Linked DNA regions of Homo sapiens: regions 2, 3 and 4 are each reported to be linked to region 1. The links are microRNA targets in miRTarBase. Many come from high-throughput screens and were not tested one by one. Region 1 holds a microRNA gene; each other region holds the end of a gene's coding sequence.
What was found. The annotated mature microRNA hsa-miR-3686 reads AUCUGUAAGAGAAAGUAAAUGA and lies in region 1 at 4,609-4,630, opposite strand. An mRNA with a match to its seed (bases 2 to 7 or 8) in the 3' UTR can be bound and repressed. Matches are read on the target gene's strand: a 7mer-m8 pairs with bases 2 to 8, a 7mer-A1 pairs with bases 2 to 7 and ends in A, and an 8mer does both.

Region 2: miRTarBase lists ZNF418 as a target of hsa-miR-3686. Seed matches in the 3' UTR shown: 7mer-A1 at 6,049-6,055 and 8mer at 2,522-2,529.
Region 3: the mRNA of HMGN1 is a reported target of hsa-miR-3686. Seed matches in the 3' UTR shown: 7mer-m8 at 1,471-1,477.
Region 4: miRTarBase lists USP42 as a target of hsa-miR-3686. Seed matches in the 3' UTR shown: 7mer-m8 at 4,400-4,406 and 7mer-m8 at 3,937-3,943.

Annotation. Positions count from the first base shown.
Region 1 is chr8:129,479,459-129,487,485 of GRCh38, forward strand. It overlaps MIR3686 (microRNA 3686), which reads right to left and starts at 4,684; the gene lies at 4,599-4,684. It overlaps CCDC26 (CCDC26 long non-coding RNA), which reads right to left. Exons shown (of 4, transcript NR_130917.1): 2 at 1,185-1,232.
Region 2 is chr19:57,919,965-57,927,991 of GRCh38, forward strand. ZNF418 (zinc finger protein 418) reads right to left here. Exons shown (of 6, transcript NM_133460.3): 4 at 5,659-8,027; 5 at 3,228-3,325; 6 at 1,918-2,665. The coding sequence ends at 6,186. Among named protein-coding and RNA genes, the nearest start is that of ZNF417, 7.4 kb to the left of the region's middle.
Region 3 is chr21:39,336,026-39,344,052 of GRCh38, reverse strand. It overlaps HMGN1 (high mobility group nucleosome binding domain 1), which reads left to right. Exons shown (of 6, transcript NM_004965.7): 6 at 894-1,738. The coding sequence ends at 941. Among named protein-coding and RNA genes, the nearest start is that of HMGN1, 9.0 kb to the left of the region's middle.
Region 4 is chr7:6,157,202-6,165,228 of GRCh38, reverse strand. USP42 (ubiquitin specific peptidase 42) reads right to left here. Exons shown (of 18, transcript NM_032172.3): 17 at 5,736-5,779; 18 at 3,665-4,674. The coding sequence ends at 5,772. CYTH3 (cytohesin 3) reads left to right here. Exons shown (of 13, transcript NM_004227.4): 13 at 213-3,450. The coding sequence ends at 285. Among named protein-coding and RNA genes, the nearest start is that of USP42, 56 kb to the right of the region's middle.

The DNA.
Region 1 (8,027 bases):
GTCACCCAATCCTTGCTACATTCCCCCATTTTTTTCCAGACACTGAGTCTGTGTATTGCTGTACTGCAATAATGACCAGTGTTTCCAGAGCTTACAATCTTTCAATAAAAAACAGAATTCCAAAATGTTATATGATATATTCCAATTTTTAAATGCTATGAGTCAAATTTAGCCAGTAGCTGAGCTAATAACCTCTGGCTTAATAATGCTAACATCATAAGGAAATTTCTAACACCAAGGGAAGATTATTTTGATGGTGGCCTCCCCAGGACCTTCTTGGGTACCTCAGAACAGCATTTGACAAGGTTTTTCACATGCGTGATTATATTTGCCCCTAAAGAGCTGGGGCAGACATTAGGGACACCGTTCTACACGTTAGAAACTGAGACTCAGAGAGGTTGCCTGACAAGCCCAACATCACACAGCTAGACTGGAGCTGAGCTGTGCTATATTTCATTCTCAGATGGCCTCGCACTGCAGTGCTTTGCCCTAAACACTCCTGGGCAGTCAGTTAAGAGCCAGCCCTGGTTTAAGCTGGCTACCTCTGGCCTCCAACTCTCTCTCTGGGATACATTTAAATAGCTTTAAAACAGAGGCTTGGAAACATATAATTTTGGCAACTAGTCCAACTGCTCTGACTACCTCTAGTATTTTATGTTCTAATCAACTGACTTCATGTTTTTTAAATCCTCATATACATACTGGTGTGCAGTGATCTGACGGGCATCATGGAACAACTTTGACTTTTCCATTTGCTCAAGGATTTTCACAGGTTGATCACATCAGCAGTAAGCTGTGGGTCCCTCCCCCTTCTCCTCTGTCACAGAATTATTACCATGACTTGCTAGTTCTTCTGGAAATAGCCACTTGCCGAAGCGATAAATCTTAGGTTCACTATATAACCCCTGATGCATTTCACATTTTCCCACCAAATTCCACTGTCCAAATTTGGAGTCCCAACTTGACCACAAGCAGATACAATTTCACTTTGTGGGATTTTCCCAGCTTTTCCTTGCATTAGGATTGCAAAGCTTGTAACACCAGCTGTGTCTGAGCCAGCCCTCCAAAAAAGGCAATTGTGTTCCCTGATGGAATCGCTGCACACAAGAGCTGCTGCCAGCTCTGCTCCTTGAGCAGCCTTTTCAGGATTGTGGGGCTGCTTCCAGCCCCTCCTCCCCACTCACCAGTTAATGATGTTGGCCCCTCAAACAGCCCATGGTCCTTTAAAAGGCCTAGGAAAAGAAAGGGAAAAATAAAGCATACTCTTCCTCTCTCTTTCCCTGGGAATCCATTTTTATTTTTTTATTTTCTTCATCACCAAGATTCTCATCAATCTTGTATTTATTTCATCAATACACATTTATTTATAAATTACCATCCTTGTCCTTGGCACTTATGTTAGGGGTTGGGGAAAATAAGCTTAAACAAGGCAGGTGCTATTTCTACCAGGACTCATAAAACAACAGGGAACTGGAAATGGGATGATAATAATAATAATAATAATAGTAATACCAGTCCACAATCCCTTATCCAAAATCTTTGAGGCCAGAGAAGTTTTAGAATTCAGACATTCTCAGACCTTGGAGACATGACACGGTATATATACATTGTATGTCATGATATATATACACTGTATGTTTCACAGAATCTCATCATCAAATTTAACTTATGTAAGACAGGTAGCCTCACATCACCCCAGGTGAGATTTTGCCCCCAAAATTCATTTTGACATCCAACTTTCTATTTTGGATTTTGGATTTTGGAACTGCAGAGATGGGATTTGGACCCTGAATGGTTTTCACTTATTGAGTGTCTACTATGTTCCAGGCAATTGACATGTCTTAGCCCCTTTCATCCTCCAAAAAGCCCTTCAAAATAAACTATATTTTGACTGTTACAAAACACCCTATCTGCTAAACTTTTTTTCACACAGACTACCTTTCATGAGCATCATTAACACTGCAGCAGGATATTGCTCTCTCTATTTTAAGGAAAGGAAGCTGAGGTTCATGGAGGTTAAGGAACTCTCAGAAGGTTGTGGAGAATGTGAGTGGTAGGCTGGGAGCCGCGTCTGCTGGTGCTACCGGAAGCTCTACTGTTTCCATGATGTAAAACAGCTGCCTTTCCTGGGAGCCACTTTGATTCCACTGAACGCCCTTCCTGCCCTTTCCACTTTTGGTTCCAAAGCCCTCCCTAGTTTCCATCAGAGGTTCTACAACATGAAAATAAGTCCCACCTCACAGATTTGTTCCACGTAACATGCCCCTACTGATGGTCATTGGATTACTCTCTTCCATTGCAAAATAAATTCAGAATCAGACTTTTCTGGGGTTGAATTTTATTCCTGACTGTGACATGAGCTAGGAAAAGTCAGTTCACCTCTCTGAGAGTGTTTTCCCATACTTGAAATTGGGGGGGAGAGATAAAGTCAATAATCATTAGCATTATTACGGGGATAAAATAAGCTAATTTGTGTAAAGTGTTTAATGTGATGCCTGGAAAAGCATAAGTGCTTGACAAAGAGTAGCTATTACTGGGGCAATTATTATGACTTTTGTTATCATCGTTATTGAAAACTTATTGCTTGAGCACAATCTGGGCTAAGTAGGAAACTAAGTGAATGTGATGCAGTAGTCTATTACATTGTCACTACCTGGCAAGCCCAGTCTCTTCTGAAGAAAGCTGATCATATTATCCACAACACTGAACAAAACCCAGTGCCCCAAGAATAGGAACTTGACCCATAAACTGTCACCTAAGGTGGCTTCTGGCTTCTGAGTTCTCTTGGTACAAAGCACTTGCACACAAGAAATAATAGTGGTTTACTGAGTCTATATAAATATCTTTTTATTTGTTTCTTTTTTTTTCCAACTTTTATTTTAGACTCAGGGGGCATGTTTACAGGTTTGTTATCTGGGTATATTGCATGCTGAGGTTTGGGGTATGAATAATCCCATCACCCAGGTACTGGGCATCATACTCAATAGTTAGTTTTTCAATCCTTGTTCCCCACCCTCTCACCTCTAGTAGTCCCCAGTGCCTACTGTTGCCATCTCTATGTCCATGAGCACGCAATGTTTTACTCCCACTTATAAGTGAGAATATATGGTATTTTGTTTTCTGTTTCTCCATTAACTTGCTTAGGAGAATGGCCTCCAGCTGCACCCATGTGGCTGTAAAGGATATGATTTTGCTCTTTTTTATAGCTGCATAGTATTCCATGGTGTATATGTACCATATTCTCAAGAAATTCTTTTTAAAGGGAGATTGGATGTGAAAAAAAAATTTAAAAATCCAGAGCTCAAGCTATCTGCCTGCCTTGGCCTCCCAAAGTGCCAGGATTACAGATGTAAGCCACTGTGCCTGACCTATATCCACTATCGTGATTGCAGATGTATATTATGTCCAAACATTTAAAATTATACACTTTAACTATGTGTAGTTTCTTGCATGTAAGTTATAGCTCAATATAGTTGTTAAAACAGTTTAAAATAGCTTTAAAAAACTGTCATAGCTTGATTCAATGAATCTTTTTATATTAAAAAAAAAAGAAATACATAAAAGACCAGTTGGCCACAAGACAGTTGGCCACAAGAGGGTAGAGAATAGACATAAGGGGCAAAGAAGAAGAGGAAGAGGAAGAAGAGGAAGAGGAAGAGGAAGAAGAAGAAGAAGGAGGAGAGGAGGGAAGGGGGAAGGGGGAAGGAGGAAGGGAGAAGGGGGAAAGGGGAAGGGGGGAAGGAGGAAGGGAGAAGGGGGAAGGGGGAAGGAGGAAGAGGGAAGGAGGAAGGGAGAAGGGGAGCATTTATAGAAGCATGGGCAATAGTTGCAGAAAGAGAAAGAACTCTGGTCAGATCATCAAAATGCCAGAGAAGAGAATTGAACTCCAAAGTCTGTGCTCTTGATCTCTACAATAAGGGCCACAGATCCTCATGCCTCTGGGGCCAGTCGAGTAATAGAAATGAGAGGTGGGTGCCTGAGGAAGCCTATGTGAAAGTGGAGCGTGCACAGCCTTTCAAAAGGGGGAAGCCACTAGTGTATTTTGATAAATGGTACTCTGTGGGAACATGAGCCAAATTTATCAGGTCTTCTGACTTTTCAAGAGAAGACAGGAATTCAGATATCCATGGGAAAAGTCCAGTGTTTTAATGTTTAAAACTAATTTGGTCTTTTTTAATCACTGTGCAGGCAAAAATACATACACACACACACACACACACACATCATTTTTGGGTTAGATTTAGTCTACAGACCTTCAGTTTGAGAATACTGCCTTATACTATCAGCCATAAGACAAGGGAGATGTTTGGTGCAATGTCCAAACTGCCTTCTCTGACCACATATGCAAACAAGAAAGGAGAAGATGTGCTATCAGCCCAATGAGAAAATATCTCAGAGTTCCAGTTGAACTCTGAGAGAAGAATCCACAGAAGATGTTTCATCAAATGGCCCAAGCCATTTCATAAATCCAAAAGGAGAGCATATGTGTGTTTCTGGTCAAGATACAGTAATAGAGACTAGATTTACCTTCCCCTTGAAACAACTAAAAAGCCAGCATTTAAAACACATGAAACATTTTTGAGACATTGAACCTAAGTCTCACCTCTTTCATTTACTTTCTCTTACAGATCACTGTCCAGTGCAGAAAAGTGATCTGTAAGAGAAGGTAAATGAATGAGGTGAGCCCTCTGACTGCCCCAGCTGACCGCACAGACAGTTTCCAGGCCACAGCACAGGGAGAGGAATCCCCATGGAGCTGGGTGGTCCCACTGAGTTGAGATGATGGATCTGAGAATGCAGGAAACCAAAATGGCTGAAGTTTGAAGAACAGAGCACTACCACAAAGAGAGCTACCTAACAGAGGCACCAGAGATTCTACAGAGTCCTCCTTGAGTCTTTAGCTGTGCACTAATCAGCACATGCGTGCAGAGACTTTATGAGATGAGGGTGGGGGGAAGCACCAACAAGGATTAGAGAAAACATTCCCTGCCACGACACTGGCACCAGGAATAATTCTTTTTTCCAGTAACCTAAGTGGAAAACCTCATACTTCACGGAGTATTGGGTAAAATGTTCAGAATAGTTTTGCTACGTAATGAAAAATAGATAAATTGTCACTCTATCTTGCCTTTAAAAGCTTAAAAGCAAAATTCGAAAGTATCAGACAATAACAATTGTATACCACTGTGAAACCATCACCACAATCAAGATTACGGGGAAAATCATCAATCCAAAAGGTTCCTCCCACCTTCCTCCTCTCCTTCCCATTTTTGGACTCTCCCCCTGCCCTTCCCTTTTCCCCAGGAAAACAATGATCTGGTTTATCCTCATTATGTAAAGTAGTTTGCATTTTTCAGAACTTTGTTGAAAGGGAATTAAACAGTATGTGCTCTTTTGTTATCTGCTTCTTTCACTCAGCCTGGGGGTTTTCAGATTTATCTATGCTGTTGCCCATGCCCATTGTTCACCCCCTTTTATTGTTCTCTAGTACTGCAGAGAATGAGAGAGTATTTCCATGGCTTAGCAGGTTTGTCCTCTGAGTGTGCGGGTCTGTAAGGAGAGCAGTGACTCTCCAAAGGGAAGGAGCATTCTACTTCCTCAAAGCTGAAAGTCAGAGATATAACATGTGCAGAAAGCCAGGAGGGCACAGGAGGAGTACAAAGCCAGTCGTGGCTATCCAGAAACAAATGCCAAAGGCTGAAGCAGCCTTCCAAGGACCAGGAGGGAAGAATTTGGAACAAATGTTTACCACTGTGTGTAGGGGTTGACCAAGAAGCAAGAATAAGGAAATTTGTTTTTGACCTTTGGAAAATGAAATTTAGAGTTTGTTTGGAACACTCCAGGTAAATAATAGTTACTCAATCTCTGACCCAGTTGCAAGAAAATTTCACCTGCTGTCTCTGACTGTATTTTATATATATATGTAATATATTACATATGTATATATTATTATATATTATATATTTATGTATAACATAATATAAATGTATATATCATATATGTAGTATATACATATATAGTATGTATACATTTATCATATATGATACATATGTATATGTATATATACACACATATGTATATACATGTATATGTACATATACATATGTATTATATATAATACTATACATATTATATACATAATATAGTATACATTATATGTGTATTATTATATATTATCTATAATATATGTAATGCTAAATGTAATATATCATAGATTATGTTATATATATCATGTAAATATTATATGTTATATATTATATATTGATACTATATATCAATATATGGTGTATAAATATAATATATACCATGTATTATATATATAATGTATAGTACTATACATATAACATAACTGGAGAACTGGTTAAGAATGATTCTGAGTTTGCACAGAGATTGAAAGAATAGTGTTTTAGCAGTGGCTGTCATAGGCAGGAGATAAGAGAATGAACAGCACAGATGTTCCATTGTTGCCGTTCCTGCTCAAAGGTTTCTCCAGTTGGAGACATGAATTCATTATTTCCTTTCAGAAAAAGACCTCTCTTTGATACTCTTCTCCTTTTTTTTTGTATTTTTAGTAGAGACGGGGTTTCACCATGTTAGCCAGGATGGTCTTGATCTCCTGCCCTTGTGATCCGCCTGCCTCGGGCTCCCAAAGTGGATACTCTTCTCCTTAATCCCTCACTCATTCCAGGAGGCACAGAGCTTCCTCTAACTAACAATAAGGCAACTGGATGTGGAGCTTCTCAGTGTGATTGAGGCTCCCTTCGTGCCATTTCACCTAATTGGGCCTCAGTTTCCTCATCTGTTACATAGACCCATGTTAAAATACATGATCTAAACTTAATAGTAAAATAAGTAATTATATTATAATAAATAAAACAAACACAATTATTTTTGTCCAATATGATGTTTCCCTATTGCAGACTTCTTATGGGCTTTTTAAAAACCAGAAATTTAATCAATTCACATTTCAGATTGACCAGTTACTTTCCCTGTTCACTTTACTCCCCATCTGTACGAGTTCCGTTCTCTACGGTGATTAAACATTTTGCAAGGATAAGAAAAATTGTTTTTGACCTTTGGGGAATTAAATTTAGAGTTTATTGTTTGGAACGCTCCAGGTAAATAATAGTTTATACAGTAATAAATTGTGTAATTGCATTTAATCTGTGCCTAGAGGCCAGGAAGCACTGCAAATCAGTACATTCCAAATAAGGCTCTCTCATTCTGGGAGGCATTGGGAACCCGCTGCAGTAAGGACATCTGTTGATGCAGCACGCATTTCTCCAGAGTGCAAAACCATGCAGAGGCCTCGGGTTTGGTCCACTTTCAGTCATTGCCATTCAAGTGATGAGGAGGACTATGACAAATTATTGGGGGTAGGAAACACTGGTCCTAGGACAGAAAATCAAAAGATTCTGAACTGTAACCAAAAGCAGACTAAGGGCCAGCTTTGGGAATGTGTTTCCAAACCCAGGCAACGGAATCGGTTGAAAAAAGCCATAGAGTAAGAGGAATGAGATAATTCATTGAGGTTTTAGTCTGCAACCTCCAGTCACAGGTGTGACTTGAATAATGCATTCCTCCTTTCTTGGCTGGGGGTAAGAAAATACAGTGATTGAGATGTGTGTACCAGAGTCAGATTGCCTGGGTTTGAATCCAAGCTCTGGCCTGTCCTCTCCCTGACCTTGAGTTCTCCAACCCTTAGCTTATTTGTCTGTAATATGGGACCAGTCAGACACCTTCCTCATAGGACTGTGTGAAATTAATGAAGAGATGCCTAGGAAGCACTATATTGGCAATAATAATAATGCTCCATTTACACCAGGGATGAGGTCTTCAGCATAAATATGTTCTTCAGACAACTGAAATGTCATCTTTTCTCTTAGCAATATTTTTTTGTTTTTATGAAAACATTGTAAAACATACCATAAACTTTCCCACATACTAAAACAGGGTATAAGAAAAGAACATAATATTTGGAGTAAGAAAATACGGGCTTTGGTCTGGCTTTGCCACTTCATAGCTGG
Region 2 (8,027 bases), not on the chromosome of region 1:
CCGTCTCTACTAAAAATACAAAAAATTAGCCAGGCCTGGTGGCAGGTGCCTGTAGTCCCAGCTACAGGGGAGGCTGAGGCAAGAGAAACGCGTGAATCCAGGAGACGGAGCTTGGAGTGAGCGGAGATCACGCCACTGCACTCCAGCCTAGGCATCTCAAAAAAAAAATTAGCCAGGCGTGGTAGCAAGTGCCTGTAGTCCCAGCTACTTGGGAGGCTGAGACAGAAGAACTGCTTGAACCCGGGAGGCAGAGGTTGTAGTGAGCCTAGATCGTGCAATTGCACTACAGCCTGGGCGACAGAGCGAGACTCCGTCTCTCTCCCGCTCCCCCAAAAATATAAAAAGCAAAAAACAAGAAAACATTGACTAGGTAATTATTAAACAGTTTTGACAGAAGTGGGTCTATGGAAACATCAGTAGATGGTGAAAAAGCTTAGGACCTCAGAGAAATGTTAGCACCAATGTCCAAGAGATTAAATTATGCTCAGCACATAATTGGAATGGTCAGTCTGATGGTTTTGGCTTTAAAATGAGATTCTTCTTCTTCTTTTTTTTTTTTTTGAGGCAGAGTCTCACTCTGTCACCCAGGCTGGAGTGCAGTGGTGCGATCTCAGCTCACTGCAACCTCCGCCTCCCGGGTTCAAGCGATTCTCCTACCGGGTGTGGTGGCTCATGCCTGTAATTCTAGCACTTTGGGGGGCTGAGGCGGGTGGCTCGCCTGAGGTCAGGAGTTCAAGACCAGCCTGGCCAACATGGTGAAACCCTGTCTCTACTAAAAATACAAAAATTAGCTGGGTATGGTTATGGTGGCGCACACCTGTAATCCCAGCTACTTGGGAGGTTGAGGCAAGAGAATCACTTGAACCCAGGAGTCAGAGGTTGCAGTGAGCAGAGGTTGCACCACTGCACTCCAGCCTGGGTGACAGAGTGAGACTATGTCTCAAAAAAATAAATAAATACATAAAAAGATGCCTCAGCCTCCAGAGTAGATGGGATTACAGACATCCACCACCACGCCCAGCAAATTTTTGGATTTTTAGAAGAGACGAGGTTTCACCATGTTGGCAAGGCTGGTATCGAACTCCTGACCTCAGGCGATCCACCTGCCTCGGCCTACCAAATGCTGGGATTACAGGCGTTAGCCACCATGCTTGGTCGATCCCTTTTGAATTAAGTTGGTTCATACAATCCTCCATCCAACCTCATGGCATGATAGGTAATTTTCTCACAACGGAATACTTGTTTTCTGAAAGGAGTTGTTTATAGGTTAAGCAAAACCAATTTAAGAGCTTTCAGCAAAGTAATATGAAAAGCTTCTGTTAATTTCGCCAGGTGAGAGACAGGGTCTTACTCTGCTGTCTAGGATAGAGTGCAATGGGGCAATCATGGCCCACTGTAACCTCAAATCCCTGGGCTCAAATGATCCTCCCACCTCAGTCTCCCACACAGCTAGGACTATAGGCATTTGCCACCATGCCCAGCTGTTTTGGTAGAGACAGGGTTGTGCTGTGTTGCCCGGCTGGTCTCTATCATGCTTGATCCCTACCCTGTTGACTTCAACAAGGATGGCACCATGTCCAAGAACTGAATGAGAGCCAGAGCTAGAAAATGAGACATAGAGCTAGGCGTGTGGCTCACGCCTGTAATCCCAGCACTTTGGGAGGCCAAGGCAGGCGGATCACCTGAGGTTGGGAGTTCGAGACCACCGTGATCAAAACGCAGAAACCCCGTCTCTACTAAAAATACAAAATTAGCCGGGTGTAGTGGCACATGCCTGTAATCCCTGCTACTTGGGAGGCTGAGGCAGGAGAATCGCTTGAACCGGGAGGTGGAGGTTGCAGTGAGCCGAGATCACGCCACTGCACTCCAGCCTGGGCAACAGGAGCGAAACTCCATCTCAAAAAAGAAAGAAAGAAAGAAAATGAGACATAGGGTTTATTGAGGACTTAGATACAGGGCAGTCCAGGAGCGGCAGGCTGGACAAAAAAACCACTATCATTTGAAAGAAGCATGCAGTTTATATAGTATTTTCACTTATCACCCTCCGCCTAGCTCAAAACAAAGGGCCTCATTCCAAGGAACAGGCCAGGGGTTCAGAAACCTCCAGGTTGGCCACTCCTGGATTTCTTCGTTTGGAACGCTGAACCAACACTCTTCTTAGACCACAGGGTCATTCTTAGGGTGTGCTTGAGTTACTGCTGTCAGATATATCTGTTATACAGTGTCGAACTCCTGGCCTCCAGGATGTTCTTGCCTTAGTCTCCCAAAACACTGGAATTAAAGGCATGAGTCCCTGTACATGACGAGATGGGCTTTTATTAACCTCTTTGTTAGTTTCATCAATCGAGAAGAGAGGGGAGGGTATGCAAAATAAAAATGTTAGAAAATGGGCCACACTTTACAAATTGAGATTATGTCTCCAGTTAAATGAGTTCCCCTATTGCTGTGTAATTCACAAGAAATTCTCCAAGAGGGAGTTACCAATTCAACACATATTTACCCATGACTTCCACGGTGGCTCTTCTGTAAGGAAATGCTTGAACCCAAAGAGAGAACATGCAGATCATAATCAGTTCATATTTATAATCTTGGGCTGGAGGCAAATGCATACAGTTTACCAAATATGAAAAGGTGAGGTGGGCAAAGGGAAATGCCCTTGAGATCCCTGAAAAGAAAGAAAATTCAGTTATACATTTGATACTTAAATATATGGGACACCACTTTGTTAAATTGCAAGAAAAAAACCAAAAGCATGCCAGGCACAGTGGCTCATCCTGTAATCTTAGCATTTTGAGAGGCCAAGGTGGGAAGATCCCTTGAGCTCAGGAGTTTTGAGAGCAGCCTGGGCAACATAGTGAGACCTAATCTCTACAGAAAAATTTTAAAAATTAGCTGTGCGTGGTGGCACATGCCTGTCCCTAGCAACTTGGGAGGCTGAGGTGGGAGGATGACTTGAGTCCAGCAGGTCAAGGCTGCAGTGAATTGTGATTGTGTCACTGTACTCCAGCCTGGGCAACAGAGTGACACTGTCTCAAAAAAAAAAAAAAAAAAAGGGCCAGGCACTATGGCTCATGCCTGAAATCCCAGCACTTTGGGAGGCCGAGGCGGGCAGATCATCACAAGGTCAGGACTTCAAGACCAGCCTGAACAACATGGTAAAACCCCATCTCCACTAAAAATACAAAAATTAACCGGGCATGGTGGTGCATGCCTGTAATCCCACCTACCCGGGAGGCTGAGGCAGGAGAATCGCTTGAACCCTGGAGGTGGAGGCTGCAGTGAGCTGAGATCGTGCCACTCCAGCCTGGGCAGACAGACGGACATTCTGTCTCAAAAACAAAAAAAATTAAGAAAGAATCAAAAGCAACTTTCTAATTCATTGCAGACGGGAGTATTTTTCTATTTAGTGACACACTTACCTAACCCATTTATGCCAAGGGATGCAAAATATATATATATATACATATACACACACATACATATATACACACATATATATACATATATACATACATATACATACATGTATATACATATATACACACACATATATACATATATACATATATATACATACACACACACACACACACACACACACATATATACACATATATATATATTTTTTGAGACCGAGTCTTGCTCTGTCACCCAGGCTGGAGTACAGTGGTGCGATCTTGGCTCACGGCAAGCTCCACCTCCCGGGTTCACTCCATTCTCCTGCCTCAGCCTCCCGAGTAGCTGGGACTACAGGCGCCTGCCACCACGCCCAGCTAATTTTTTGTATTTTTTTAGTAGAGACGGGGTTTCACCATGTTAGCCAGGATGGTCTCGATCTCCTGACCTCGTGATCCGCCTGCCTCAGCCTCCCAAAGTGCTGGGATTACAGGCGTGAGCCACCGTGCCTGGCCACTTTCATGGGTTTCTATGAAAGTCTAAACTTACCACATGGTACAGTTTAAATATGTATAGTTTACAGAATGTCATTTATTCCTTATTATGGCTTTAAAGAATTGATTCAAAAGAAAAATGTGGGCTGGACATGATGGCTGAGGCCTGTAATCCCAGCACTTTGGGAGGCTGAGGGAAAAGGATTGCTTGAGGAGTTCGAGGCTGCAGTGAACTATGATCTCGCCACTGTACTCCAGCCTGGGTCACAGAGCAACACCTTGTCTTAGAAAAAAAAAAAAAGAAAAACATGGATTTTCTATTATTTTTGACAAACATGCTTGACAACTATACAAAATCTCCTCATGTCCTAAGTGCAGCAATGAGTCTCTGCGGCAGCAAATACTGATAAGCCAGGAAGGCCATTTTCACCTGATTAAATTGGAACACTGGTTGGTCACAAAGACCACATCACTGGACTAAGAGATCTCCCTTCTCCCTATCCTCTTCCTCCTGCCAATGCAGGAATTGCCTTGAGGTGAACAGCCGAGAAAGGGTACAGGAATCCACGAATCCTTTATATTATTTCCTTTGACAATGGCCTCAGCTACACAAGATTCATAATTATGGAGGTTCTGAGAATTTCTGTACCTGACAGTCCACCACATACATAGTAACTGAATCAATGTGGATGACGTGCATTCCAACTCTGTTCTTGCAGTGTCCTCCACTGCCTATAAATGCAGAAATTCTATAAATTATGACTTCCTGTTATAATCTCATAACCTGGGACACCACACTACGAAACTCTGGATATCAGAGCACATGGCTGCATTCCAGGACCTAGGGAACAGATTTCCCTCAGCAGTACTGAGCAGAATGCAATATCCCTTGTAAAAGAGAGGAAATTTTCGTGTCGATCTCAGAAGCATCAGAGGATGTCACAAACACTGTTCCCTTCTCAGGTTTATCTATAAACCCAGAAATTATTGGAGTATCTAGTCAACAAATAAGGACCACAAAGTTCTGGAGTCTTTGGAGGCCTTGGGCAGCCATGAAAACTATGCCACAAGTGAAGAGACAGTATATTCTGTCATCATACTGTCCCCTCTGAGGCACACAAAGTCTAGTGATCCCAACAAAAGCTGTCTGCCCCTTTATGACACCAGAACCCAGTTGTTTCCAAACCACCCGAAAGAGTAAATACAACTCTCAAGACTGAAGGAAGCTTAAACAATAAGGCCTTATTCATTGCACAAATCAGAGCAATGGGAAGCAGAATGTTCTTTGGTTGGAACTTAAGAGCCTAAAGAATCACATGAGACCCGCTGGGTGCGGTGGCTCACGCCTGTAATCCCAGCATTTTGGGAGGCCAAGGAGGGCAGATCATGAGGTCAGGAGATCGAGACCATCCTGGCTAACACGGAGAAACCCCATTTCTACTAAAAATACAAAAAAATTAGCTGGGCATGGTGGTGGGCACCTGTAGTCCCAGCTACTCGGGAGGCTGAGGCAGGAGAATGGCGTGAACCCGGGAGGCGGAGCTTGCAGTGAGCTGAGATCACGCCACTGTACTCCAGCCTGGGCGACAGAGCGAGACTCTGTCTCAAAAAAAAAAAAAAAATATCACATGAGACCCATAAGGTCCCTGAAAAAGGTAGTCCATCTTTTCAAGCTGACAGAAGACCCCTCTGGACCAGTACTGAGACAGATCCATGGTCTCGCTCATCCGAAAGAAATGAGAAAGGAATGACAGCTGAGACTACTCACCAATTCCTCTGGCCAACGAAAGACAACCAAGGTTTACTTCCAGAACATCATGGGGTGAATGAATGATGCACAGTGAACACCTGCCTCGTGGCCGACATAAAATGGCTTTTGCCAGATAACCGACATCATGTCTGGCAAGGGAACCCGGCAGGGTGAAAAATGCCACACAGCTCCAACATAATTGAGTTTATGCAGATGCTGAAGGTATGTCAATTTAGGCAGATGGCTCCGTCATAAGGCATCTCCTCCAGTGTTATGTTTTACAAGAAATAATATTTCCTGTACGTGTACAGTGTTTTCCTTATGAGAACAATCTGTTATCCAATGACAGAAGGCAGAAGGCTTTCTCACATTCATCGCACTCAAGAGGCCCTTCTGCAGTGGGAGCTCTTCTGTATGTAATAAAACAAGACTTCTGCATAAAGAATATCCCACGTTTGTCACACTCATAAGGTCCTGATCCAGTAAGAACCCTCTGATCAAGAAGATGCACAGAGGTTTAGCTAAAGAATTTCCCAAATTTCTTTTCACTTGTAAGGACTTCTTTCTGTGTGAACTCTCTGATGTCGAAGGAGAGAAGAGCTTCGATGAAATGATTTTCCACATTCACTGCACTCATAAGGCCTTTCTCCAGTGTGTACTCTCCTGTGTTCAGTAAGACTGAAGGTTTCAGCAAAGGATTTCCCACATTCGCTGCACTCGTAAGGCTTTCCTCGAGTATGAAGTCTCTGATGTTTAAAATGCGCAGACCTTCGAGTAAATGTTTTTCCACATTCCCTGCATTCATAAGGCCTTTCTCCAGTGTGAACTCTCCTGTGTTCAAGGAGACTGGAGAAGAATTTCCCACATTCTCTGCACTCATAAGGTCTTTCTGCAGTGTGAGTTTTCTGATGTCGAAGGAGGGAAGAGCTCTGATGAAATGACTTTCCACATTCTCCACATTCATAAGGCCTTTCTCCAGTATGAACTCTCCGATGTCGAAGGAGGGAACAGCTTTGAGGAAATGACTTCCCACATTCACTACACTCAAACGGTTTTTCTCCAGTGTGAACTCTCTGATGAACACGAAACCCAGAGCTGTCTTGAAATGATTTCCCACATTCATTACATTCATATGGCCTTTCTCCAGTGTGAACTCTCTGGTGTTCAATGAGGTGGGACTTGCCCCTAAATAATTTCCTACACTCTCTACACTCATAAGGCCTTTCTCCAGTGTGGCTTCGCTGATGCTGAATGAGGTTGCCCTTTCGACTAAAAGATTTCCCACATTCTCCACACTCGTAAGGTCTTTCTCCAGTGTGACCTCGCTGATGGTTCCTAAGGTGTCCCTTTCGACTAAAAGATTTCCCACATTCTCCACACTCATAAGGTCGTTCTCTAGTGTGAACTCGATGATGTTCAGTTAGGGTGCCCTTTTGACTAAAACATTTTCCACATTCTTCACACTCATAAGGTCTTTCACTAGTGTGACCTCGTTGATGTTGAATGAGATTGCCCTTCTGAGTAAAACATTTCCCACATTCTTCACACTCATAAGGTCTTTCTCCAGTGTGAACTCGTTGATGTTTAATGAGAGTACCATTTTGACTAAAAGATTTCCCACATTCTCCACACTCATAAGGTCTTTCTCCAGTATGAACTCGCTGATGCTGAACAAGGCTGCCCTTATGACTAAAAGATTTCCCACATTCTCCACATTCATAAGGTCTTTTCCCAGTGTGAACTCGCTGATGCTGAACAAGGCTGCCCTTATGACTAAAAGATTTCCCACATTCTCCACATTCATAAGGTCTTTTCCCAGTGTGAACTCTCTGATGATTACTGACGCTATCATATTTGCTAAAGGATTTCCCACATTCCCAGCAATAACATTCCTCTCTAGAGGGAAGTCTCTGCTGTTGAACAAATACGTGTTTGGTGCTAGAATGTTTCATGCATTCTCCACAGCTGTAATGAGTATCTCCCCACTGAAAGGGAGACTCACACTCAGGTTTGCTGTTTGACTTCTCCCCAGTGTGAGTGGCCTCCTGCAGCAGTAATCCTGAGCTGGGCAAAAAGTCCTTTCCACTCTGAATGAAGATAGATGACTCCTCTGACACATGGAACTTACACCTCTTCACAAACAATGCTTCCTCAACACTGCTTCTATAGGGTTTCTCTCCAAGGTACTGATTCTGGTGCGGACGGTTTGAACTATCATACAATTTATTCCCCCATGCCTCACACCTGTGCAGTTTCTGCTTGTGATGTGTCCCCTGATGATCTGCCAAGTGCAAAATGTCTCCCAAGATCGCGCCACACATTTCACAAGAGTGGGCCTTCTTGGGAGACACACCTGCCCCAGGAGTGCTGACCTGAGACACTCTTTG
Region 3 (8,027 bases), not on the chromosome of region 1:
AAACTCCTGACCTCAGGTGATCTGTCCGCCTTGGCCTCACAAAGTGCTGGTATTACAGGTGTGAGCCACCGCTCCTGGCCTGTACTACTTAATTCTAACCATACATCAAATACTGTGTGATAATAAGATCACATTGCTAATCTAGTTTTGATTTTAAAGGAAGAACTTGACCTTCTAGTACATGTTATCAAATTACAGTTGGTTTCCCTTGTTTATAGCTGTGTTCTATTAATATAAGGCTGCCACAAGTATGAAACCGTTTTCACATAGGGGAAGTACAGGATTGGGTTCCTACAAACCTCTGATCACAACATTTTCATCAACTGAAAATACGTGACTTTGTTACATGTGTATTTCTGTTTAGACATGCCTTAATGTATGTTAAATTCACATCGAACTCACTACCCAGTAGCACTGTAATTTGTACCTGAACAAAGCCCTCCAACACATACGTTCTCTGTGTGGCACATCACAGCCTTGAATTGAGCAACATTAGATAGCACTTGAACAAGATGCGTGGGGGCCATTTTAAACAACAAAATCATCAGTAAAAAGCACAAAGGTGTAAAATATGTGGCACTAAGTAGACCGGAAAAACAGTTGTTTACGGCATTAGAGCTGAAACAAGAAGACAGAGTGACCTCAGCTTGGAGTGTACATGTGATGCAACTCAACATTTTTTCCTGCTCTGTAGATGCATGCACATGACCATGGAAGGGCTGCAAGTATTGATTTGGGGTGAGGGGGTGGTTAACAAAAGTTTTTTAACAAGAGTAGGTAGGTGACTTTACAAATAACAAAGGTTATTGACTTTTTTAAAGACCTGATAGTTGCATATAAATAAAACGACAACGTGTTAAATGCTAAAGATCTCAATTTCCTTTCTTTTGCAGAGTCCAGCCTCTGATGAAGCAGGAGAGAAAGAAGCCAAGTCTGATTAATAACCATATACCATGTCTTATCAGTGGTCCCTGTCTCCCTTCTTGTACAATCCAGAGGAATATTTTTATCAACTATTTTGTAAATGCAAGTTTTTTAGTAGCTCTAGAAACATTTTTAAGAAGGAGGGAATCCCACCTCATCCCATTTTTTAAGTGTAAATGCTTTTTTTTAAGAGGTGAAATCATTTGCTGGTTGTTTATTTTTTGGTACAACCAGAAAATAGTGTGGGATATTGAATTATGGGAGGCTCTGACTGTCTCGGGTGTCAGCTTAACATTCCACAGATGGGGGGTTAGTTTTTATATCCTATAATACAAAGCATATTAAATGGCAATATGGAGTCAGTCCTGCATTTAATGTCTTGAACATTTTAAATTACTTCTATTACCATGTTGTTTTTTAGTAGAATTGTTTCCTAAAGAAAACCACTCTTTGATCATGGCTCTCTCTGCCAGAATTGTGTGCACTCTGTAACATCTTTGTGGTAGTCCTGTTTTCCTAATAACTTTGTTACTGTGCTGTGAAAGATTACAGATTTGAACATGTAGTGTACGTGCTGTTGAGTTGTGAACTGGTGGGCCGTATGTAACAGCTGACCAACGTGAAGATACTGGTACTTGATAGCCTCTTAAGGAAAATTTGCTTCCAAATTTTAAGCTGGAAAGTCACTGGAATAACTTTAAAAAAGAATTACAATACATGGCTTTTTAGAATTTCGTTACGTATGTTAAGATTTGTGTACAAATTGAAATGTCTGTACTGATCCTCAACCAATAAAATCTCAGTTATGAAAATATTTTGAAGCACATGGATTAAATTCTGGTTTAAATTTTATTTACAGAATTTCCACATTTGAGCCTGGCCAACATGGTGAAACCCTGTCCCTACTAAAAATGCAAAAAAAAATTAGCCAGGTGTGGTGGCAGGTGCCTGTAATCCCAGCTACTCGGGAGGCTGAGCCAGGAGAATCGCTTGAACCTGGGAGGTGGAGGTTGCAGCGCACCCAGATCGCACTACTGCACTCCAGCCTGGGCAACAGAGTGAGACCCTGTCTCAAAAAAAAAAATTCCATATTTGATCTTCCAAAGTTGTTTTTTTTAAGTGAAATGTTTGAATTTTTGTTTAATACAGTCATGGGTCACCACTGACTGGATACAGTCTAAGAAACACATTGTTAGGCAGTTTTCTTGCGTGAACATCATAGAGAGTGCTTACACAAACCTCAGTGGCATAGCCTATTACCTATGTAAGCTGTATGGTTTAACCTATTGCTCCTAGGCAATAGACCTGTACAGCATGTTATTATGTAAATACTATAGGGAGTTGTAATAGAATGGTAAGTACTTGTGTATCTAAAGAGAAGGTACAGTATATAATATGGGACCATTATGTGGTTCATTGTTGGTTGATACCTGAGACATAACTGCTTGAGTATCTATGTCCTTTGAAGTTGCTTGACTATATTGGTTTAAGGGAAAAACAATCCAATATCCTTTGAATCAAAGCAAATACGTAATTCTTAACTCTTCGTATGAGGTTAAAAAAAGTACAGATAGGCCAGGTGTGGTGGCTCACACCTGTAATGCCAGCACTTAGGGAGGCCGAGGTGGGTAGGTCACCTGAGGTCAGGTGTTTGAGACCAAGATGGTGAAACCGCATCTCTACTAAAAATAAAACAGTTAGCTGGGTTTGGTGGTGGGCACCTGTAATCCCAGCTACTCAGGAGGCTGAGGCAGAAGAATTGCTTGAACCCAGGTGGTAGAGGTTGCTGTAAGCTGAGTTCACGCCATTGCATTCCAGCCTGGGTGACAAGTGAAACTTGTCCCAAAAAAAGAAGCTACAACTAAATCTAGTATGGTATGTATTTTCCAGATTTGCTTTCATATACATTCTGTTGTCATTCTGCCCTCTTAAGTATAGTCTTCAGAGGTGGTGTGGGGCAACTCTTGACTTGGCAACAGTGAAAACGGCCGGAGAACAGACCTTGTTGAGGTTATCACTAAATAGGGATCCTTGGAACAGAATTTAAACCTCTGTACACTTGGTGTGTTGTTTTGCCTGTGGGCTGATCAGTAGGCAAGAATCCTTTAAAAACAAGCCCTATGGGATCATAGATCTCTGCACGGACTGCCAGAGCAGAGTTTATAGGGAATAGTGAGGATACAGTAAAAGCAAATGCAGAGGATAGTGATGTGTCATGAACTGACGGCAAAGAAGCTTTGATAACCCTTGGGGGATGGGGAAGGACTAGGAGCCACCTGAGCGCTGTTGGTCATTACACGATGGAGGCCTGAAACGGTGATGAACAGATTTGCCTTTAACTCTGAAGTATAGGTAGAATAGATGAGTTTTTGATAAGCCTTTTAACCATAGAACCATCTGCCAGTGTTTAGTTAGTTGTCATCCCCAACCTTCCCACCCCGGACGGTGGTAATAGATGTTTTCAAATCACAGATTTTCTTAATCGTTGAATACTCGTTGTAATGATATATTTAAAGAAATCACTAGTTTTTCTTACAAATTAAAACAGGTAAAGGGTTTTGGCTTATAGAATACCAAAAACATTGTAGAAAAGCATAACAGAAGTACTTTAAGATCCTGCCTTGAACTACTCCGTTAGGCTTTTCTACAGTTTTTTTGGAGCGAGCCTTGCCTTGTTAAATCTGACCTATTACTTGGGTGTTTGCTAGCCCTAAGGCTGCCCATTTTCCTTTTTTTTTTTTCTTTTAAATCCTACCCACAGGAAGGAACACCTTTTGTTGTTGTTTCTGAGACGGAGTCTCACTCTGTCGCCCAGGCTGGAGTGCAGTGGTGCGATCTCAGCTAACTGCAACCTTTGCCGCCTAGGTTCAAGCAATTCTCTTGCCTCAGCCTCCTGAATAGCTAAGATTACAGGCGTGAGCCACCACACCCGGCTAATTTTTTTGTATTTTTATTAGACACTGGGTTTCACCATGTTGGCCAGGCTGGTCTCGAACTCCTGACCTCATGATCCGCCCGCCTCGGCCTCCCAAAGTGCTGGGATTACCGGCGTGAGCCACCACGCCTTGGCCAGGACACATATTTTTATGATAAACCGACTTCAACTGTCAAAGGAAAAAAAAAATTTTTTTTAACTAAGCCACCTTGGGGGCTGGATGTGGCAGTCACACCAGTGCTGTGGGAGGCCAAGGTGGGAGGATTGCTTGAGCCTGAGTTCAGAATCAGCCTGAGCAACAGCGAGACCCAGTCTCTACAAAAAATTTTAAAAATTAGCCAAGCATAGTGGTGCATATCTGTAGTCCCAGCTACTCAGGAGGCTGAAGAAGGAGGATCACAAGCCCAGGATTTCAAGGCTGCAGTGAGCTGTGATTGTGTCATGGCACTGCAGCCTGGGGTACAAAGATCTTGTCTCAAAAGCCACTTTGAGGCATGTTTTCTGGGATCAGTACAGAAAGTTAATATCTTGCCGTTTAAACAGAGTCGACAGTACTTTTGAGTGATGAGAATGGTTGACTGGCTGTACCAATATCAGACATCTAAAAGTATAAGGAAGAGAACTTCTTATCAGACAGCAATTGGTTGATTAGAAAAACTAGTGAACAAGAACCCTGCATTCTCTTGACTTCTCAGAGATTGAGCTTGACGTGCGTCAAATGTGGGTTAATCAGGATTTAAGGCACAGATCTTGGTACTTAGTACTTGGATTCATGGTAATCATGGAGGCCCCAGGGGGAAGTTCTGTTCTGTTGTAGCAGTTTGGGAAATGTGTATAAAAGTCTTGTGGGGTTAGGGATGAGGTTGGGGAGATGGACAGATGCAGGGATGAGAAATATGTGTGTCATCATAGGGGAGAAATTAATACACATTGGAAAAAAAACTCAGGAACTGCAGGCAAGCTAAAATCACCCATAATTCACTTAAACAGCTATTTAAGTAGCTATTTAAAGATGCATTTTTCTCAGATCCTATTCTATGCTTGTACATCCTATTTTGTAGTCTTTATCATACTGTGACCTTTCTCCCATTTCAGTGAATACACTTACACAGCGTTTGTAAGCACTGTGTAGTATTTTATTTCAAGAATATATAATTTGTCAGACATTTAGACTTTTTCGCATTAAAACAAGAATTGTCAAACTAAAAACTAATCTCTGCTAACCCACACAGATAGACCTAAAGATGTATCTGCTTATCACAATCTCCATTTGTTCCATGAGTTTGCAATAGAAATACTTGGTTGAAACACCAAGTAATTTTGAGAATTAGAATTGAGAATTTCTAAACATTAGGTTTAAAAAGATGATGGGAAGCAGCTCATCAATTGGTAACAATTGTTTTTATTTCAAGATCGTGAAAGCTAGGATTACATTTTTTAAAACCTCAAAGAGTATAAAGTAAGAAACCATTTAGGGGCCCTGCATGGTGCCTCATGCCTGAAATCCCAGCATTTTGGGAGGCCAAGGTGGGCAGATCACTTGAGCTTGAGGTCAGGAGTTTGAGACCAGCCGAGCCGACAAGGCAAAACCCCGTCTCTACTAAAATACAAAAATTAGTCTGTGGTGGGCGCCTGTAGTATCAGCTACTTGGGAGGCTGAAACTGGAGAATCACTTGAACCCAGGAGGCAGAGGTTGCAGCGACCCAAGATCTGCCACTGCACTCCAGCCTGGGCGAAAGAGCAAGACTCTGCCTCAAAAAACAAACAAAAAAACCATTTAATCCCAGAAGCTAAAAGCAATTATTTTAGGGTGAATTTTCTTCATATGTTTGGGTTTTTCCTTAACTGTAAAATGTTTTAATACTTGCTTAATAGTTCATCGTGTGGCAAAACCATAATTTGGCCATTACACTTTTTTTTATAATTATTAAGGGCTGGGCGCAGTGGCTCACGCCTGTAATCCCAGCACTTTGGGAGGCCGAGGCGGGCGGATCACGAGGTTAGGAGATTGAGACCATCCTGGCTAACACGGTGAAACCCCCGTCTCTACTAAAAATACAAAAAGAAATTAGCCGGGCGTGCTGGTGGGCGCCTGCCGTCCCAGCTCCTTGGGAGGCTGAGGCAGGAGAATGGCGTGAACCCAGGAGGCGGAGGTTGCGGTGAGCCGAGATAGCGCCATTGCACTCCAGCTTGGGCGACAGAGCGAGACTGTCAGAAAAAAAAAATTACTCTATTTGGGATAATACTGCTCATGCCAACAGTACAGTATACCGAAGCCCCTGTACCAGGCAACCAGTCCCAGTAGCCATCAACGTTTTTGGAAGCAAATAAGAGTGGATATTTTTAAAATAATATCTACAAATACAAAACTGAAAAGGAACAAAATGCATAAGAACAAATATTTAGGAGTAAAAGCTCATTTACCTTTGTAGTATTGGACATTTTCTCAGGATTGGATACAAATTCAATTTTAAAAGAAGCTGCTATTAAGAAAAAAAAAATCGGCAGGGCACAGTGGCTCATGCCTGTAATCCTAGCACTTTGGGAGGCCAAGGCAAGTGGATCACTTGGGCTCAGGAGTTGGAAACCAGCCTGGCCAACATGGTGAAACCCTGTCTCTACTAAAAATACAAAAAAATTAGCCGGGCCTGGTGGCGGGTGCCTGTAATCCCAGCTACTCCGGAGGCTGAGGCAGGAGAATCACTGGAACTTGGGAGGCAGAGGTTGCACTGAACCGCACCACTGCACTCCAGCATGGGCGACAGAGTTAGACCCCGTCTCAGGGGAAAAAAAAAATTATATATATTATATATATATATATATCTCCATCATGGCTAGTTCCACTTTAGAATTACGTATTAGCGTGGCTCACGCCTGTAATCTCAGCACTTTGGGAGGCCGACGCGGGCGGATCACGAGGTCAGGAAATCGAGACCATCCTGGCTAATACAGTGAAAGCCCGTCTCTACTAAAAATATAAAAAATTAGCCGGGCGCGGTGGCGGGCGCCTGTAGTCCCAGCTACTCGGGAGGCTGAGGCAGGAGAATGGCGTGAACCCGGGAGGCGGAGCTTGCAGTGAGCCGAGATCGCGCCACTGCACTCCAGCCTGGGTAATAGAGCGAGACTCCGTCTCAAAACAAAACAGAAAAAAAAAAGAAAAGAAAAGAAAAAAGAATTACATATTAGCTTCCAGATGCTGATTCCACAAAAATCTTTTCCAGTGGAAAAAAGTAGGTAGATGTTTGAGATTTTTTGAGGGCATGGAGATGTATAGTGCCATGGTTAGTGATGGAATTGAAGGGAAACGGCACGAAGATACGAGACACTCGCTGGGGTGAACGCGGATCGGCATCAGGGCAAGGGACCATCATCTGTAGCTCCATTCCACCACCTCTCGGTTGCAAATGAAGGTAACCTGACAACAGAAGGGGCTAAGGATATAGGTAATGGGCTTAACTGAAGAGACGATAATACTTTACCCAGAGGGTCAGAGTGGATGATGCGGGGCCTGGCAGTTAGTGCACCATAAACGTCTGCTTTCTTTCTTGAGTGATTTTCAGAACCTACAATTACTAGATTCCTGGCAGATTCCTGCCCGCCTCCCACCACCTCACAGCAATATATAGTGTTGAGGAAAGCCTTTGAAACTACACTTAATTTAACCTTAAGCTGAGCATTATAATGGGTAACTCGTACTCATAAAATCTGGCTGTGCTGTCTTGTTAGAGAGTGGCTTTTGTTAAGTCCCTCAGTGTTTCCTTACATCCTTAAGTGTAAAGAAAGATTACTTTTGTGTTTTAGATTTAATCCATAACTGCAAATTATATTAAAAAGTTATATATAATTTTATACTACAAATGTTATCTCTGAAAAGCACTTAATGTTGTTACTCCTTAGAAAATTCTAATTTAAAAAATGTACAAATACTAATAATACATTGAAGTTATGTATGAGAATTTTAAAATACACTAATCTGTTATGCATGATTCATAGAGAAGAAAGATTGGGAGTCTTGCATGCTTGGCTGTTTTTATGTAAGGATGTGGTTGCATATTAAAACGTGCAAGATTGTCATTTCCACCAGTGCCCATTTAGATTTTCAAAAGAAATATATTTAAGACAGTCTTAAAGGTCATCACATGATTTCTCACTTTCTGCTTCAGTTCT
Region 4 (8,027 bases), not on the chromosome of region 1:
CGGTTGGAGGGCGGGGGATGGTCTGGAACATGGATGCTTCCGTGTGCAAGAGTGGACCTTCTGTCTCCAGAAACCCCAGAGGGCCGGGCTGCCAAAGCCGACGTTCAGATCTGAGCCTGCGGTCCTGTCTGAGGGGCCTCTGGGGCTGGTGGGAAAGGGGAGGTCTGTGTGTCACCCACGACCTAACCTGTGTGTTTTCCTTTTTTCACCAGAGCCAGTATCAGCAGAGATCCCTTCTATGACATGTTGGCAACGAGGAAACGAAGGATTGCCAATAAAAAATAGCTTTCCTGGCTAAAAGACCCAGGTAAAAGACCCAACCCCAGCAGAAAGACACCGCGGGCGGCCCCTCCGCGGAAGGCGTGGCAGGGAGGCAGTCGCCCTGCGGTGCAAGCTGCTGCTCCAGAGCATACCGTGGCCCAGGTGGTATCCCCAAGGCCTCGTGCCGTGGCTGGGGTCCTGGGAGGTGGTCGCCCTGCAGTGCAAGCTGCTGCTCCAGAGCGTACCGTGGCCCAGACTGATCCTCGAGGCCTCCTGCCGTGGCTGGGGTCATGGTCGGCTGCGCATGTCCAGAAGCATTTCCTTCCTGCGACCATCCCGGCGCCCCTAGGGGGAGAAGCCAGGACAGCAGCTTCCGCTGTCTCCACAGCAGACACGGGACGGATTCCACAGACGGGAGCCTCATTCGTACCATGCCAAACGCATTCACTCGGGGCAGTATTAACCGTTCTAGAAAGCCACTGTTTTATAGCAAAACAGGAAAGGAAAAGCTACCAGTTTTTTATTCAGAATTTTTCTCAGATATATAGGATTATAGCTTTTATATGCCTTTTTATATTCTGAAATTATAACAAAAGATACTTTCTAACAGTAGTATTTTTAGAATGGCAGCTATAAAGTTAACTCCTGGACACAAGTATATACTGTGCACTGAAAAAATATCCATCTACACAGCACCCAAGGGGAGGGCTGGGGGCACCGGCACGGGGGCAGCGTGCAGCCCTGCCCTGTCAGGCTGTCAGACAAGCCCCGGGGGGCAGCAGGTGGGCTCGGGACGGGCTGGGGGAGGGACGGCCATGGCACTTGGGGGCTCCAGGGTGACTCCCATGAGGCCTCCCTTCAACCAGGCTTTTTGGCCCCACAAATACTTTAAGCAAATCATTAAAATTATAACAGTTAATGGTTTGGGGGTGTTTAGGCTGTAACTGCTAACTCCTAGGAAACAGCCTTTTCCCTGGACACAGATGGTCCATACGCTGAGCCACGTGAAACTGCTGATGTTTTGTTTAGATGCACACACATGGCAGCGTTTCATACAGGTCAGCAGGTTAGACCGGCTTTTGACCATATTCATCGCTATTTAAAACCTGTGGCAAAATGAACGCTTATTTTACAGACTTTCTAATTTGACCAGATTTCTTAATGAATAGACACAGAATTAACTAAAAACAGTCTCACCCCATGTAGTGCGCCGTGTCCTGAGAGAGGTGCCCTCCCTACGAGGAGGGAAGAACAGGCCCTGGGGTGCAGAGGCCCGGCACGTAGAGAACCCAGATAGACGCCGGTGGTGGAACTGGTCAAACTCCACGCCCGCCTGGGAGGTTGTCAGGTTGCTGTGGATGTAAGGATAGGAGGTGCCCAGTGCTCCGCTCAAGGAAGGCTGGATCTGGGCCCCACCTACAGAGAGGGCTCAGGGCTGGACCGGGGGCATTGTGTGCTTGGGCCGACCCGGGCCGGTGGCAGACGCTGTTCTCTGTCGGGAGATTTGCGTCCCCAGGACCCTGTTACACAGTGGGCTGTTGGGTTGGTGGCTGGCTTTTCCTCTATGGACTTCCTCTTCCTGCCCCACCTGCATAGGCACACACACCTTGAATCTGCACCCTCTGGAGGGCATCTGTACTCCTGTGCAAAATGCCCAGTCCAGAGACAAAACCTCAGACTTTGTGCACCTAGGTTTCCTTCTCAGCAGCGGAGACTGTTCTTTGAGTTGCCTTGAAGTGGAGGCCGAGCGGCTGCGGGCCCTTCGCCTCCCTGCGGCTGACCTTGATGTAGCTTTAAGTCACACTAGACTGCAGAGGGGTCCGAGGCCAGAAACCCCTGTCCTGCATCAGACTTTCATTCCCACGTTCTTAGGCTTTGTTACTGATACCTCAAATCGGAAGTTTTAGTTCTGAGAAAGGCAAGTCAGCGTTCTTGAAATGCCTGACTGGTAGATATGCAACTCTGGCCTCCAGTCTTCCATGAAAATAAATGCTGCCTGGACCCCCACCCAGACCACACACTGACGGCCGGCTCCGGCGGTGCCCACCCCTCAGGCTGGCCCGGCACCCAAGACTGGCCACAGCCAGCTCTGTCAGCATGTTGTGCTCGGACAAGCTGTTTCCTTCTTCTGACCAACCCAGGTGTGACCTGGGGATGCAGAGCTTTCTGTTTTGGGTGTTGGGAGAAGCAGCAGGAAGGAGTCGCCAGATGATCAAGCTCCCCCTTTGCTGTCATCTGTGAATGAGCTTCGCCAGGTGGTGGGCACCTGGGAGCCATGCAGAGGCTGTGGTGCTGAGTTAGACTCCAGGTACTTTGTGGTCAAAGGAAATCGCCTAGCTCCAGGCTGTGTTAGGACAGTATTAGCATGAAGGCTGTGCGACCATCATGCCTGCTGATCCTTGAGGCAGGCCTGGTCCAGAAAACTCTGGGTCAGTGACTGCGCAGGGCCAGCCGCTACCAGGACGGCCCTGAAACAGGACACATCTGTTTTTTGTCCCTCACCCTGGGCAGGCCGCGTCACAATCACAGTCCTCCTCCTCCCCACCCTGACGTCTGAGCGCAGGGCTTGAATTGTTAGTCCCAACTCTGGCCAAAGATACTTTTTTCCAGAGACAGAGGCCAGGAGGCAGTGAGGGGAGCCCCGCGGGGAGGCGGCGGCGACTGCCACAGCCCTTCCAGCCTGTCTTGCTGGCCGCCCTGGTTCATATTTGAGTTTAATTGTACTGACCCTGGACCCAGATAAGCAGCAACTTTGTGTCTTTGGGGTCACAGAACATTTTGGGGCAGTTTAATGTGGTACCAAACTGAAAATAGGAGCTATTTATAGATGGAGCAGCACTTAGTGCTTCATAGAAAGCAATGCCTATTTTTAAAGTTACAAACGCAGATATCTACATAGATATGCTTTGCTGAGAAGTTAGGTCTGTGGTAGACCAGAAACCACAAATTGACTTTTTTTCTTAGAAAATATTTCTATTTGCGGTAAATATAGTAATATGTAAATAATGTACATCTGTTGATTTCTGGAGTGTCTGTTATTCAATGATGTATATACTCCCACAGCTCGCATGAAGGAACAGCCTCTATTGATACTTGGTTGTAAAGTGAAGTAAGATTGGAGGGTGGATGGCTGTCAGAGCTCTTGCAGATACTGTGTTCACTAAATAAAAATCACATGTATTGTTAAAACAAGCCTAAGACTTGGTTCTTTAAAACAGATATTGTTGGGTCCAGCAAACACCCCTCCAATTTTCCTTTGCCCGTCCGAGGTGGGATGGCCTGGCCGAAGGTGCCGACTTCGGCAGGAGCACTTACTTGAAGGTTTTAAGAAAGTGAATTCAGATGATGACAGGAAGGAGTCTGGAAGCAAATGGGGAAAACAACAGTAAAAAGACGCCAAGTGTGTGATTTGCTGCCATTTATATACTATAGAAATTTTACATGCTGTATATTTACAGTGGGGCAAGTGCTTTTTTAATCTTTAGAAAAACAAAGATCAAACTTTAAACATCTCTGAACAACACAAACTGTATAAACCATACAGATTATTCAGATACAAACTGTATTAAATACAGTTTTCCCCACTCCATCTCCTGATGCAGGACCAGTGAATTATAAGTGTATCACAGTTTGATAGCATATCCATATTAAAAATAAAATCACAGTATGATTGTGTCTGTAACTAGAAACTCGAAGGGACCAAGCAGACAACGGAGACTCCAGTATCAGTGAAGACAAGAGACGCTGTATCAAAAAGTGTTGTGTAATAGAAACATACTGTCGGCTTTACAAATCATGTCTGGGTTATACATTCATAATGTAAATACTCATCATAACTGGGAAATTGATTGATTGGAACAGTTCCACAAAGTTCAAAAACAGAACTTGTCTATAAAATACATCTTCAAATCTTGAATACAACTAAAATAAGCAAATTAGTTTCTAGTATCAGACATTACAGAAAACAGACTGCTCTCCAAAGTCTAGGTGAGAGCTTGTGAGTTTTTAAATAAGTCTTTAAATTAAATATACACACTGTCAGTTTGTACTTTTGACAATTCCATGGTCTCCCGGTTGGTCTTGCACCAGATGTCTAACTTGGAGGAACATTACATGAAATACAAGTAATCGACCTGAGTCTGTAATTAAGCAGCATTTGAGATGTTCTATTCCAGGGCATTATTTCAATGGGATTTATATACACGGTATTTTACAATGGTCAGCAGTGGTAGAAAGTGTTCGTCCATTCGGAATAAGGGTAATTAAGAAAAGGTAAAAACTAAAAAAAAAGTTCTCCATGGTAAAATCTGTACAGTATTTACTAAAGAAGCACCACGCAGATTGGAACAGAGTTATTGTCTATCTTTATAATTTAAGCTGGGCTGGGGATGGCTTCTGTTGAACGCGTTGAATCTGAAAGACAAGAGGCGCAGGGTTAGTGAGTTGGAGGCAGGCGGCGGCGTGTAGGGCTTATTCCCGGACGCCCTGCCAGCTGCTCCCGAAGGCTGGGGAAGCTCTTCCTTGAGGAGATCACTCTGCCTTCTCTGCCTTCCTGAGTGGAAATGAGGGAACTGGCGGTGCGGGCAGCTCAGCCAGGGAGGCGCCATCTGCTGGGCCCGGCCACCACCCGCCCCAGATGCCTCCTCCACCTCCATCCTCACAGCCCCTCACTCAGGAAGTTTAGCTCCTTAATTAGGGTTGGGCCTCTCCCTTGAGGACACATTGATAAAGCCTGTTAATTAACGGCCAATTAATCCACAGACTCTTCACTTGGCAATTCATTTTAAATTCCTCTTGCTGACTACATGTGACAGACACATTTGGACAAAGTTTCCTTTCAAGGGAAAAATGGTTCACTGTCCCCTCTAGCTCCACAAGGGTCAGGTATAAAACCAGTGACTCTCCCAGGACCGCTGTGTGAAGTGATCCAACAAAGCCCCACAGCTCCGAGGTCCTGATCTGCCGCCCGGCCCTGGGCCACCTTCCTATGGTTTTGTACGGTGGCTGCTGGGGGGGTGCTGGCTCCAGCTCAGTGCCACCTCGGGGCGCAGACAGCAGCACAGGGGACGGGACGGACGAGGGAGCAAGGCTCCGCTCTCCTGAGTGAGGTGCCTGTGCTGGGGACCGGGCCTCTCCCTTCCCAGATGTTTATCAAAGGCCCGTGGGCTCTGCCGCTGTGAGCCGGGTTGGCTTTTCCCAAGTGAGGCACAAGGGAACAGGGCGACTCTGCCTGCGTGAAGGATGCGGGTCTTCCCCAGCCAGTAATGCAAACGTGATGAGGTGGAGGGTCTAGGTCTGTCCCCAAGCGCGTGGCCTGGGTCTGGGCTGGCTGGGAACCTGCCGGGGCCTCTCCATGGCTCTGCCAACTCCTATGAGCCCAGCCCCCAGGCAGAGCCGCAGAATTAAAACTCCTCTGCCTGCGTCCCCTCAGCGCCACCACAAACAATGAGGAAACAGACAGGAAAACAGCTTACCATAACTAGTGAATTTTTTGTTTTGAGGCTGAGTTTTCAATCACCTAGAAAGCAAAGGTCAGGAAAGAGATTTTAATGATGGTTGCAAAATCGCCAGGGCCTCTGCTGTGTGTGTGCGTTAAGTGGCTATGGTCAGAGTCACTGCGGTTCCCTGTGAGCGCCTGAGGCCACTCCCCAGTGAGGTGAGCAGGGATGTCCCAGCGCTCAGCGGCTGCTCCCAGGGTTTTACTGATGTCAAAGGGTTTACGTGATGACTGAGGGCTCCATCCAACCCACACGCAGCCTGATGTTAGAACAGATATCAGGCCCAAGAACTGAACTGGGCGGAACAGAGCCAGAGGAGGAGTTTGAAAGAGAAAGACAAGGGGCCGAAGTCCAGGGTAGAGGGGGACCCGCAGGACCACAGGACGCTGGGTGAGGCGGGGCCGGGCAGCGGCCTTCTCAGAAGGACAAGAAAGGCTCCTCAGTCTGCTCGCAGCAGAAGCGCCAGCTGCAAACCCTGTCATCGGTGCAGTGGGACGGGGACGGAAACACAGGGCCACCACACAGACAACGCCTGACCACAGCACCCGAGACACGAGGCAAACAAGATCACGTTCAACCTCCCTCCCGCTGGACCAGCTGCCTCGGGGGCCATCACTGTCTCCCAGTAGCCCCAGCTGGAAGCCCATGATCCTGGGAGCCTGCACCACACTCAGAATGAGCCCATCCACTGCATCCTCGGATCCTCGGGTACCAAGCAGCCCTCACGAATCTCCTTCCCCGATTCGCTGAAATGGGAACGCAAAACCAATTCTGAAATGTCCAGAACGTCTACAAGGCCCGCAGGCAACCCGTCCTCACCGGCAGTGCTGGTGCCTGTCCTCATCTCCGGCTGTTTCCCCAGCACTCCATGGGCAAATGTCCCCCATGGGGCTCACCCCGCAACCCCCAGCTCTCTCTCACACACTCTAAGGACCGTTTACCCCTCAATCAACAATGCATGCTGGCTCTGGGCTGCTGGGAGGGACAGGCCTTCCCCAGAACACACAGCTCCACCTAACCCACAACTCAGCCGAGAAGCAAAAGGCCTCAGGGCAGCCCTGAAGATTCGTCAAAAGCCCCTGGGAGGAGGGGATGCGCTTCACACGTGAACACAAACAATGGGCGTCCAGGCAGGGGTGACAAACCCTTTCTGTCAAGGGGCAATAATAAACATTTTCCGCTTTGCGAGCCACACGGTCCCTGCCCTGCCGCAGCCACTCACCTCTGCCAGGCAGTGACAGCGAAGCCGCCAGACAGCGTGGGAACGCACCTGGCTGCGCCCCAATCAAGCCACAGACACTGAGGTCTGAATTTCACATCATTTTCATGTGAAACGCATTGTTCTTTGGGATTATTTCCAACCACTTAAAAAGGTTAAAACCATTCTTAACTCCAAGTTCATACAAAGTCTGGTGACTGGCCGAAGTTGGCCCCAGGGCTGCAGTTTGCCAGCCTCCGCTCTAGGTCCACTGACTCGAGTGACATCCGCTTCTAACAGGCTCACAGCTCCTCTCGAGGGTGAGCGGTCACCGGACACCAACGGGAGAGGAAGTGGGGGGCTGCCTCAAGTGCAGTAAGAGCACAGCGTGTGGCCACAGGACGGAGACACAGCCCCACAGGGCAGAAGAGAATCCAGGACACCTGGCAGGGGCAGCCAGCGCTCTGCCACATGGAGGCCTCTGCAGTGTCACTCAAGCAGAGGCTGGTGCCCACGCTTCTAAGGAACCAAGCGAGCAAATCAGTACCGAGCATCAGGGTGCACTCAGAATGCTACAGGTTTAAGGATTCGGGAGAGTAACGTATACGCTGCAAAAGTATTTCTATCAAAAATGCTTTAAAACCAAGAGTTCTCGAGACCATCCTGGCTAACACGGTGAAACACCGTCTCTACTAAAAACACAAAATTTAGCCGGGCGTGGTGGCGGGCGCCTGTAGTCCCGGCTACTCAGGAGGCTGAGGCAGGAGAACAGCATGAACCTGGGAGGCAGAGGTTGCAGTGAGCTGAGATCGCCGCCACTGCACTCCAGCCTGGGCAATAGAGCAAGACTCCGTCTCAAAAAATAAAATAAATAAAATAAAATAAAATAAAACCAAACCAAACCAAGAGTTCTGGTCCTTTGCAAGGCAAAGTCAGATGCCTAGAGCTGTACGTTCCAGGGCTTTGGTGACACAGGTAGTGCTGCCCTCAGTCCTGTGTCACTTAGGCCTTCAATAAACGCTAAGGGCTTAACTGTGCAACGGAACCACACTGCAGGGATGAGCACTGAG